Linked DNA regions of Homo sapiens: region 2 is linked to region 1. A link means that fine-mapping ties the variant in region 1 to the expression of a gene that starts in the linked region. Tissue or cell type: whole blood. Region 1 holds a variant in brackets; the other region holds the start of a gene. All regions are shown on one strand. Distances are from middle to middle.

Evidence for each region. PIP is the estimated chance that this variant, and not a neighbour inherited with it, causes the effect.
Region 2: FAM161B starts here. The variant in region 1 is fine-mapped to the expression of FAM161B in whole blood (TOPMed, PIP 0.97).

What each region holds. Positions count from the first base shown.
Region 1 is chr14:74,335,607-74,341,174 of GRCh38, reverse strand. It overlaps a transcript of VRTN not described here. Among named protein-coding and RNA genes, the nearest start is that of VRTN, 10 kb to the left of the region's middle. The variant C/T (reference allele first, on the strand shown) is at 2,550.
Region 2 is chr14:73,947,559-73,952,558 of GRCh38, reverse strand. It overlaps FAM161B (FAM161 centrosomal protein B), which reads left to right and starts at 2,465. Exons shown (of 9, transcript NM_152445.3): 1 at 2,465-2,586. The coding sequence starts at 2,533. It overlaps COQ6 (coenzyme Q6, monooxygenase), which reads right to left and starts at 2,257. Exons shown (of 12, transcript NM_182476.3): 1 at 2,064-2,257. The coding sequence starts at 2,226. RefSeq lists a silencer at 207-505 and enhancers at 2,499-2,558, 1,575-2,575.

The DNA of each region.
Region 1 (5,568 bases):
TCAGTAAATAGTGCTGCTATTCAGTTATTCTCTTCCCTACTCACCTTCTTTCTACAGAGATTTAAAGAATTCATCCATCTGTCCCATCAATTAATTCATTCACTCAATGACTTGTTAAATAATTTGTTATTTCAGCTGGGCACGGTGGCTCACACCTGTAATCCCAGCACTCTGGGAGGCCGAGGCAGGCGGATCACAGGGTCAGGAGATCAAGACCATCCTGGCCAACATGGTGAAACCCCGTCTCTACTAAAAACACAAAAATTAGCCGGGAGTGGCTGCGCGTACTCCAGCTACTCAGGAGGCTGAGGCAGGAGAATTGCTTGAACCCAGGAGGCAGAGGCTGCAGTGAGCTGAGATTGCGTCACTGCACTCCAGCCTGGGCGACAGAGCAAGACTCCGTCTCAAAAAATAAAAATAAAAATAAATTGTTATTTCATATAATTCATCATTCATTCAATCATTTATTTATTCACTTGTGCATTTATTCATACATTCAGTCATTCATTCAACAGATATTTGAGCTCTTAATATGTGCCAGGTTCCAGGCTAGCCCCAGGAATACAATGATGTCTACAGACTGAACTCTAGACTTTAGAGTGTGAGAGTTGAAACTCAAAAGGCTTCTCATTGGCCGGGTATGGTGGCTCACGCCTGTAATCCCAGCACTTTGGGAGGCGGAGGTAGGCGGATCACCTCTCAGGAGTTCAAGACCAGCCTGACCAATATGGTGAAACCCCGTGTCTACTAAAAATACAAACATGGCCGGGCGCGGTGGCTCACGCCTGTAATCCCAGCACTTTGGGAGGCCGAGGTGGGTGGATCACCTGAGGTCAGGAGTTTGAGACCAGCCTGACCAACATGGAGAAACACCGTCTCTACTAAAAATACAAAATTAGCCGGGCGTGGTGGCACATGCCTATAATCCCAGCTACTAGGGAGGCTGAAGTAGGAGAATCGCTTGAACCTGGGAGGCGGAGGTTGCGGTGAGCTGAGATCGTGCCCTTGCACTCCAGCCTGGGCAACAAGAGCAAAACTCCGTCTCAAAAAAAAAAAAAAAAAAATACAAACATTAGCTGAGTGTGGTGGCACACACCTGTATTCCCAGCTATTGGGAAGGCTGAGGAAGGAGAATTGCTTGAACCCAGGAGGCAGAGGTTGCAGTGAGCTGAGATCATGCCACTGCACTCTAGCCTGGGCAGCAGAGTGAGACTCCATCTCAAAAAAAAGAAAAGGCTTCTCATTCATTCTACAACACAACAAACACCTATTATATTCACTGTAAACAAAGGCCTTAAATCCAATTACTGCTAGTCTTACTTTTATGACATGTTCTCCTAGCTTCTTTTATTTTCTGTTTTTGAGACAGGGTCTTCTCTGTTGCCCAAGCTGGAATTCAGTGGTGCAATCACAGCTCACTGCAGCCTCAAAATACTGGGCTCAATCGATCCTCCCGCCTCAGCCTCCCAAGTAGCTGGGACTACAGGCATGTGCCACCATGCCCAATGAAATTTTTTCTTATTAGTAGAGATGGTGCCTCACTATTTTTCCCAGCCTGCTCTAGAACTCCTGGGCTCAAGTGATCCTCCCACTGCCTTGGCCCCTGAAGTGTTGAGATTACAGACATGAGCCACCATGCCCACCCTGATTTCTTTTTCTTTTGTTCTTTCTTTCTCCTTCCTTTTTCTCTCCCCCTCCTCCACCCTTCTCTTTTACCCTCTCTTGCCTGTACCCAGGACTGAGACCTTTACTCCCCCATCCAGAGTCCCTTGGTGACTACCAAGAGATGGATGACCACTCAGACTCTGGAGTCAGAGCAACCAGAATTGAGTCTCAGCTCCCCTACTTCCTAGTTACAGAACTTTGAACATGCCTGACCCTCAGTTTCCTCATCTGTGAAATGGGGCGAGTGATATCTACTTTACAGGGCCAATGAAATGATCTGATAAAACAGCCATAACACTACTTGGCCCTGAGGAAATAATACCAGGGAAATATGATTGTCAATTCAAATTACAATTAGTGGCTCCCACCTGTAATCCTAGCTACTTGGGAGGCTGAAGCAGGAGGATCACTTGAGGCCAGGGGTTCAAAGTCAACCTGGGCACCCTAGTAAGACCCTGTCTCAAAAAAAAAGAAAAGAAAAAAATGGCTTGGCACAGTGGCTCACTCTTGTAATCCCAGCTCTTTGGGAGTCCAAGTCAGGCAGATCACCTGAAGTCAGGAGTTCGAGAGCAACCTGGCCAACATGGTGAAACCTCATCTCTACTAAAAATCTAAAAATTAGCCGGGCATGGTGGCTCACACCTGTAGTCCCAGCTACTCAGGAGGCTGAGGCACAAGAATTGCTTGAACCCAGGAGGCGGAGGTTGCAGTGAGCTGACATCTTGCCACTGCACTCCAGCCTGGGCAACAGAGTGAGACTCGATCTCAAAAATAAAAAATAAAAATAGTTAGCTGAATGTGGTGGCATGCAACTATAGTCCCAGCTACTCAGGAGGCTGAAGCAGGAGGATCACTAGAGCCCAGGAGTTTGAGGCTTCAGTGAG[C/T]TGTGATTATGCCACTCCACTCCAGCCTGGGCAACAGAGCAAGATTCTATCTCTAAAACAAAAAACAAATTACAATTTGTTAAACATCTACTCTGTGTAGGCATTATACTCAGCTCTGTGGAAGACACACAAAGAGTGAACGCAGTCTTCCAGTCAGGACAGAAGAGTGCATAGCAAATTCTCTATGGTAAGAGCTCATAATGAGAGCTACCATGACTTGCTATTACTGAGGAAAGTAACAAGTATTTCTTGAGCCCCTCATTCCTGGGTACTGGCGTTTCTCAGAGATCTGTGCTAAGAGGGCTGTCAGGCTGATGCTGGCTTCTCTGGTTTCATTTGCAACTCCAATCTAACATTATTCATGGCTTTAAGTCATTTCACTTAGGGGTAAGTGTGAATATAGATTAGATATTAGAGTATACGAAGCAATTAATGTTAAATTTGTTAGGAGTGAGAACAGTATGATGGTTACATAGGAAAATGTTCTAAACTTTTAGATATACATTTCAGAATTTAGGAATAAAATGTCAGGGATTTGATTTTTTTAATCAGAAAAAAGAATATATATGGCACAATGTGATACTTTTTGGATCAGGAGTTCATTTTACTATTCATTCTGAGTGGTTCATTATACCATTTTTCATTTTGGGTGTGCTTAATAACTTTTACAATAAAAAGATGAAACATTTTATTTGAGGAGTGAAGTATCACTTTAAAGGAGCAAAGGGGAAGGACACTTACCTGCAAGCCAGGCTCCCACTTCAGGGAAAAGCAGGCAGCCCAGGTACCTGGGATGGGCAATGTCATTGGCAACCTGGATTGCCATCTGCTTGTTTGCAGGGTCTTTGATAGGTGCCTTTGGGGCAGTGGGCTTCACAGAGCAGCTGTCCTCAGGAAACGTACCTGGCGAGGCAAGAAGGCTTGTCAATAACTCAGCCCTTCTCCCACCCCAAGAAAACAGGCACAGGTACCCACTAGGGGAACAGTTGGCCCTGAAGCAGTTTCAAGGGCTTGTGGTCCTTCCCCTCCGAGTTTGTTGCATTTCTTCAGCCCTCTCTATTTCATCCATGAAGGGGAAACAAGACCACAAGGCCAAACTCAACGTCTCCCAATCACCCTGCTCTTCCTCTCAGGCCTAGTATCTTTGGTCTTGGTTAGTTTACTCCCAACTCCTTTCATCCCCCATTACCACACACTGGCAACCACCTTTATTAGTTTCCTTCCAGAGTTTCTTTTTTTGTTGTTTTGTTTGTTTGTTTGTTTTTGTTTGTTTTTTGTTTTTTTGAGGCAGGGTCTCACTCTGTCACCCAGCTAGAGTAAAGTGGCACGATCTCGGCTCACTGCAACCTCCGCCTCCCAGGTTCAAGCAATTCTCCTGCCTCAGCTTCCCGAATAGCTGGGACTACAGGCATGTGCCACCATGCCCAGCTAATTTTTGTATTTTTAGTAGAGACTGGGTTTCACCATGTTCACCAGACTGGTCTCAAACTCCTGACCTCAAGTGATCCACCCACCTCAGTCTTAAAGTGCTGGGATGACAGGCGTGACCCACTGCACCTGGCCCAGAGTTTCTTTTCATCAGTACAAACAGATACAAAAATACATTCTTCAAGGACAGTATGTTCTGAACAGGCATAAACCCAATTCAAAGTAAATTTTCAAAATACGTAAAATTACAAAATGTTCCAGGTAAGAGTGAAGTAAGTGTGGGAGTTGTTAGCATCTAGATAAGATCTAAAGCCAAAGGGGTAAGAAAAGAGGAGAAAAAGAGGAGAGAAAGAAAAAGGACAATTCTCTAAAGTCACCTAGAGGAAAATAGCGAAAAAAATTACCAAGAGGAAACTTTTTTTTTGAGATGGAGTTTCGCTCTTGTTGCCCAGGCTGGAGTGCAATGGCACGATCTCAACTGACCGCAACCTCCACCTCCGTCTGGTTCAAGCGATTCACCAGGAGGGAACATTTTAGTTCAATTATATTACCCACTACTGATGTGTCAATAGATCTATGGGAACTAACCCAGAAAGATAGCCAAATTAAAGTGGGATTTCAGAGTTAAATAAATCTTATGAATCCACTTTTGCAAAAATCTATCTATTATGTATGTATATATATATACACGTGTTTAGGGAGTAGAAAGAAGTGTCTGGGAGACTATAAATGGAGCAAACTAATGGAAAACCCTGGAGAAGAGGTTTGTGGAAAGAGGCGGGTTTTTTTTGAGACAGAGTTTCACTCTTGTTGCCTAGGCTGGAGTGCAATGGTGCAATCTCGGCTAACTGCAACCTCCGCCTCCCAGGTTCAAGCAATTCTCCTGCCTCAGCCTCCCGAGCAGCTGGGATTACAAGCATGCAGCACCATGCCCAGCTAATTTTGTATTTTTAGTAGAGACAGGGTTTCTCCATGTTGGTCAGGCTGGTCTCAAACTCCTGACCTCAGGTGATCTGCCTGCCTCAGCCTCCCAAAGTGCTGGATTACAGGCGTGAGCCACCGCACCTGGCCAGCTTTTTTACTTTGCACACTTCAGTTTTGTTTGCATTTTTGCCACAAGAATGCATTCTTTTTGTAAATAAATAAAGAAGATCTGAGGCTGGGTGCGGTGGCTCACACCTGTAATACCAGCACTTTGAGAAGCCGAGGCAGGCAGATCACTTGAGGTCAGAAGTTTGAGACCAGCCTGGCCAACATGGTGAAACCCCATCTCTACTAAAGACACAAAAATTAGCTGGGCCTAGTGGTTCATATCTGTCATCCCAGCTATTCGGGAGGCTGAAGCAGGAGAATTGCTTGAACCCAAGAGGCGGAGGTTGCAGTCAGCCGAGACCATACCACTGCACTCCAGCCTGGGCAACAGAGCAAGACCCTATCTCACAAAAAAAAAAAAAAAATAGAACATCTGTAAAAGGGGAGAAACTGCTTAAGGACACCTATATTGAAAATTTCTAAGCCTGTATAGAATGGCAATGAAAATCACTGGCTTTAGAGTTGAATAAACATGGGTTTAAATCCCAGCTCTACTGAG
Region 2 (5,000 bases), 390 kb after region 1:
TCTACAAAAAAAAATTTTTTTTAACTAGCCAGGCATGGTGGCACACCTGAGCTATGTTTGTGCAACTGCAGTCCTACCTGGGGGACAGAGCAAAACCCTGTCTCAAAAACTACAAAAAAGAAAAGAAAAGAAAGAAAGGTCAGGCACAGTGGGTCACACCTATAATCCCAGCACTTTGGGAGACTGAGGTGATGGATCAGTTGAGCTCAGGAGTTCAAGACCAGCGTGGGCAACATGGTGAAACCCCATCTCTACTAAAAACACAAAAATTAGCCAGGTGTGATGGCGGGCGCCTGTGGTCCCAGCTCCTCAGAAGGCTGAGGCAGGAGAATCACTGGAACCTGGGAGGCAGAGGTTGCAGTGAGCTGGGATCCTGCCACTGCACTCCAGCCTGGGTGACAGAGCAGAGACTCTGTCTCAAAAAAAAAAAAAAAAAAAAAAAAAGTTAGCTCCAGCCATACAGACAGTGAGCGGTCCATCTTGGCAGCTTTTGCTGTGGAGGATGGGGCACAGGGACATGCTCTGTAGAGCATGCTCTGTAAAGGGCACTATCTTCTTTTTTTTTTTTTTTTTTTTTTGAGATATCGAGTTTCGCTCTTGTTGCCCAGGCTGGAGTGCAGTGGCGCGATCTCAGCTCACTGCAACCTCCCCCTTCCAGTTTCAAGCGATTCTCCTGCCTCAGCCTCCCAAGCAGCCATGAGAACCACCCTGTTACAGAAGTCTATGATCTGCTTTAAGTTAAATTTTGTGTATCTTGTGAGATGAGGATCATAGGGTGGAACAGCTGCCCTTAGATCAGGGTGTCCAATCTTTTGGCTTCCCCAGGCCACAGTGGAAGAATTGTCTTGGGTCACATATAAAAAAACACTAATATTAATGATAGCTGATGAGCTAAAAAAAAAAAAAAAATCACAAAAAAAAAATCTCATAATGGGCCAAGCATGGTGATTCATGCCTGTAATCCCAGCACTTTGGGAGGAAGGGGCAGGTGGATCACGAGATCAGGAGTTCGAGACCAGCCTGGCCAATATGGTGAAACCCCGTCTCTACTAAAAATACAAAAATTAGCCAGGCATGGTGGCACAAGCCTGTAATCCCAGAGGTTGCAGTGAGCTGAGATCGTGCCATTGTACTCCATCCTGGGCAACAAGAGCGAAACTCCATCTCAGGGAAAAAAAAAAAAGTGAAAAGACTACAAAATGGAAGAAAATATTTGCAAGTCATTTATCAGATAAGGGACTTATACAGAATAAACAAAATAATGGCCAGGCAGGGTTGCTTATGCCGGTAATCCCAGCACTTTGGGAGGCTGAGGCAGGTGGATTGCTTGAGCCCAGAAGTTCCAGACCAGCCTGGGCAACATAGTGAGACCTCGTCTCTACAAAAAAATACAAAAATCAGCCGAGTGGTGGCGCATTCCTGCAGTCCCAGCTATTTGGGAGGCAGAGGCAGGAGGATCAATTCAGCCAGGGAGGTTGAGGCTACAGTGAGCCGTGATCGTGCCACTGCACTGCAGCCTGGGCACAGCGGAAGACCCTGTCTCAAAAAATAAAAATAACTCTTACCACAGTATTCAAGAGACAAACTGCTCAATTAAAAACCGGGCAAAGGGTCTGAATAGGCATTTCTCTAAAGAAGATATACAAATGACCAATAAACATATGAAAGGATATTCAACATCATTAATCATTAGGGAAATACAAGTCAAAACCTGGAGATCCCACTTTACTTACACCCACTAGAATGTCTATAAACAAAAAGACAATGACAAGTACTGTCCAGGATCTGGAGAAACTGGAACTCTCATTTATAAATAACCCCGGGAAGGCCTGTTTTCCCATGAGTAGAACAGACTCTGAACGCCCCTCCCACTTTTGACCCTAATGGACCCTGAAGGACCACACGCATTCCGGCGTGCCCTGGGGTTCCTCTAGGAGGGGAGGGGAGAAGCGTCGCGAGACCTGAGAAATTGTCTTTGGGCAAGTCGTGCTAGGGCTCTCACGGCTCTCATCGTGCCTCCGCGGCCCGGTTTCCGGCCACTAGTAGCCTGGAGAAGGGCTTACCCAAGGCACAGGCCATGGCAGCGCCCACCAGGCCTCCACCCGACACCACCACGTCATACACGGTGTCTGTTGAGGCGCCGGACCACCTGCGCCAGGACACCAGCGGGCCGCTGTGGGGAGCTGCACGCACAGCCCCGCATCGGCTGACAAGCCGGGCCGCCATGGTGCAGACCTGCGCCGTCGCACTCAGAACTCCCGCAGGCCCACCTACGTAGTGCGTCCGGAGCAGAGCACTCCAATCCCGTCCCGCTTCCGCGGCGTCCTCAGAACCGGAAATAAAATGCGCGGAGAAAATAGGCCAATCGGAAAACGAACCTTGCCTCCTCGGGCGGGATGGATCGGAGGCTGCCCTGGAAGCCAACCAGACGCCAAAGCTAGAAAGGGGTGGACCCTGGCCCCGCATAGCTCTCGCTGCCACCGCTGCTGCCACTATCGCTGTCACTGTCGCTGCTGCCTCTGTCCAGCTGAAATGACCGTGGGGAGGCCTGAGGGAGCCCCCGGAGGCGCGGAGGGGAGCCGTCAGGTGAGGAGAGAAAAGAGACTGCCCCCGGGAAAGGAATCCCGGAGAGGAAACTGTTGGGCGTTGCCTTGGAGACAGACAGCAGGGGCGTGTCACGGAGGGGCGTGGGATTAAAATGAGCGTTTAGGGACCAGGAGGCGGACTCTGACTTACAGACCTGAACCTCTCGGACTTTATACGAGGCTCTTGATAGGCAATGTCACTCAGTTTTCGCTTATCCTCTTAGTACTCTATGACCAGTAGTACAATTGTCGTCTCATTTTTGTAGAAGAGAAAACTGAGGCACAAAGAGATTAAGAAAATTGCTCCCCAAATTTGGCCGGGCGTGGTGGTTCACGCCTGTAATCCTAGCACTTTGGGAGGCCGAGGCGGGTGGATCACCTGAGGTCAGGAGTTCGAGACCAGCCTGGCCAACATGGTGAAACTCCGTCTAAAAATTTAAAAAAAAAAAAAAAATTGGCCAGGCGCGCTGGCTCACGCCTGTAATCCCAGCACTTTGGGAGGCCAAGGAAAGCGGATCATGAGGTCAAGAGATCGAGACCAGGCTGGTTTCCATGGCAAAACCCCGTCTCTACTAAAAATACAAAAATTGGCCGGGTGCGGTGGCTTACTCCTGTAATGCAGCACTTTGGGACCTGAGGTCAGGAGTTCAAGACCAGCCTGACCAACATGGAGAAACCCTGTCTCTACTAAAAAAAATACAAAATTAGCTGGACGTGGTGGCACATGCCTGTAATCCCAGCTACTCGGGAGGCTGAGGCAAGAGAATTGCTTGAACCTGGGAGGTGGAGGTTGCAGTGAGCCGAGATTGTGCCATTGCACTCCAGCCTGGGCAACAAGAGCAAAACTCTCTCAAAAACAAAAACAAACAAACAAAAAAATACAAAAAATTATCTGGGCATGGTGGTGCGCGCCTGTAGTCCTAGCTACTCGGGAGGCTGAGGCAGGAGAATCACTTGAACCCGGGAGGTGGAGGTTGCAGTGAGCCAAGATTGCACCACTGCACTCTAGCCTGGCGACAGAGCGAGACTCCGTCTCAAAAAAAAAAAAAAATTAGCCAGGTGTGGTGGCGCGTGCCTCCAGTGATCCACCAGCCAAGGCCTCCCAAAGTGCTGGGATTACAGGCGTGAGCCAGTGCACCTGGTGGACCCCAAACTATTAAAGGCAAAAAGTAGATTGGCAGTTGCTTAGGGCTGGTGGGGTGGGGTGTGGAGGGTTAGGGGAAATAGGGAGTGACCACTAAAGCGTGTGGCATTTCTTTTAAGGGCGATGAAGGTGTTCTAAAATTGTGATGGTAGTTGCACAACTCTGTGTATATACTAAAACCACTGAATTGTACACTTTAAATGAGTGAATATATTGTATAGAAATTATGTCTTAATAAAGTTGTCTTTAAAAGAAAAGAAAAAACGTGCCCAAGATCACACACTGTAGCAGAGCCAGGGCTAGGGTGCATACATATCTCTGACTCTTACCCTGGATTTTAGTAAGCCTGGCTCCTCATCAATCAAGTGTCAATTCAAAATTCCTCCACAATGAAAAATAAAAATCAGCCCAGGACTGAGAAAGTATAACTCAGACTGTCATAGGCATAGATAATGCCAACGGCAAGAGCATCAGGAAACAGTGTTTCTCTCAGGGCCATAACATAGGTGCAAAATTACTAACACCCCTTCTTCCAAAAGGCTTACTGATCAATTACTTACCCACCCTACTTTATTCTTCTCACCTTTTGAATAAGTATTGCCGTTGGGCGGGGCCCAATGGCTCACGCCTGTAATCCCAGCACTTTGGGAGGCCAAGGCAGGCGGATCATTTGAGCTCAGGAGTTGGAGACCAGCCTGGGAAGCATGGTGAAACCCCATCTGTACAAAAAATACAAAAACTAGCCAGGTGTGATGGTGTGTGCTGTAGTCCCAGCTACTCGGGAGGCTGAGGTGGGAGGATCATCACCTGAGCTCAGGAGGTTCAGGCTGCAGTGAGGCATGATTGCACCACTGCACTCCAGAACCTGGGTGACAGAGCAAGAACCTGTCTCAAAAAAAAAAAATTGCTCAGTCATTCGCTTAACTAAATTGTCCCCACTTCATGACAGCACCATTCCAGAGTTGATACCTGGTTCCCTGAATCAATCAGGGAAGCCAACCCTATAAAAATCACACCCTCAACCCTAAGTTCCCTGTGGTTTTCCGTAGTGTCCTGCAGCAAGTTAATAAGCCTAACTGATGTACTGATTACAAGTACATTCCTAATAACCTTAATCTGATGGACTTTATCAACCAAAAAGCTTTCCATAGGCACTCCATCTTTTTATAACCTCACAGTTGTTTATGGTTTTCACAGAATTTATCATCATCTTATATTGTCTGTCTCCTCTTACTACAGTGTAAGCTTCATGAGAGTAAGGACCTTGTTTG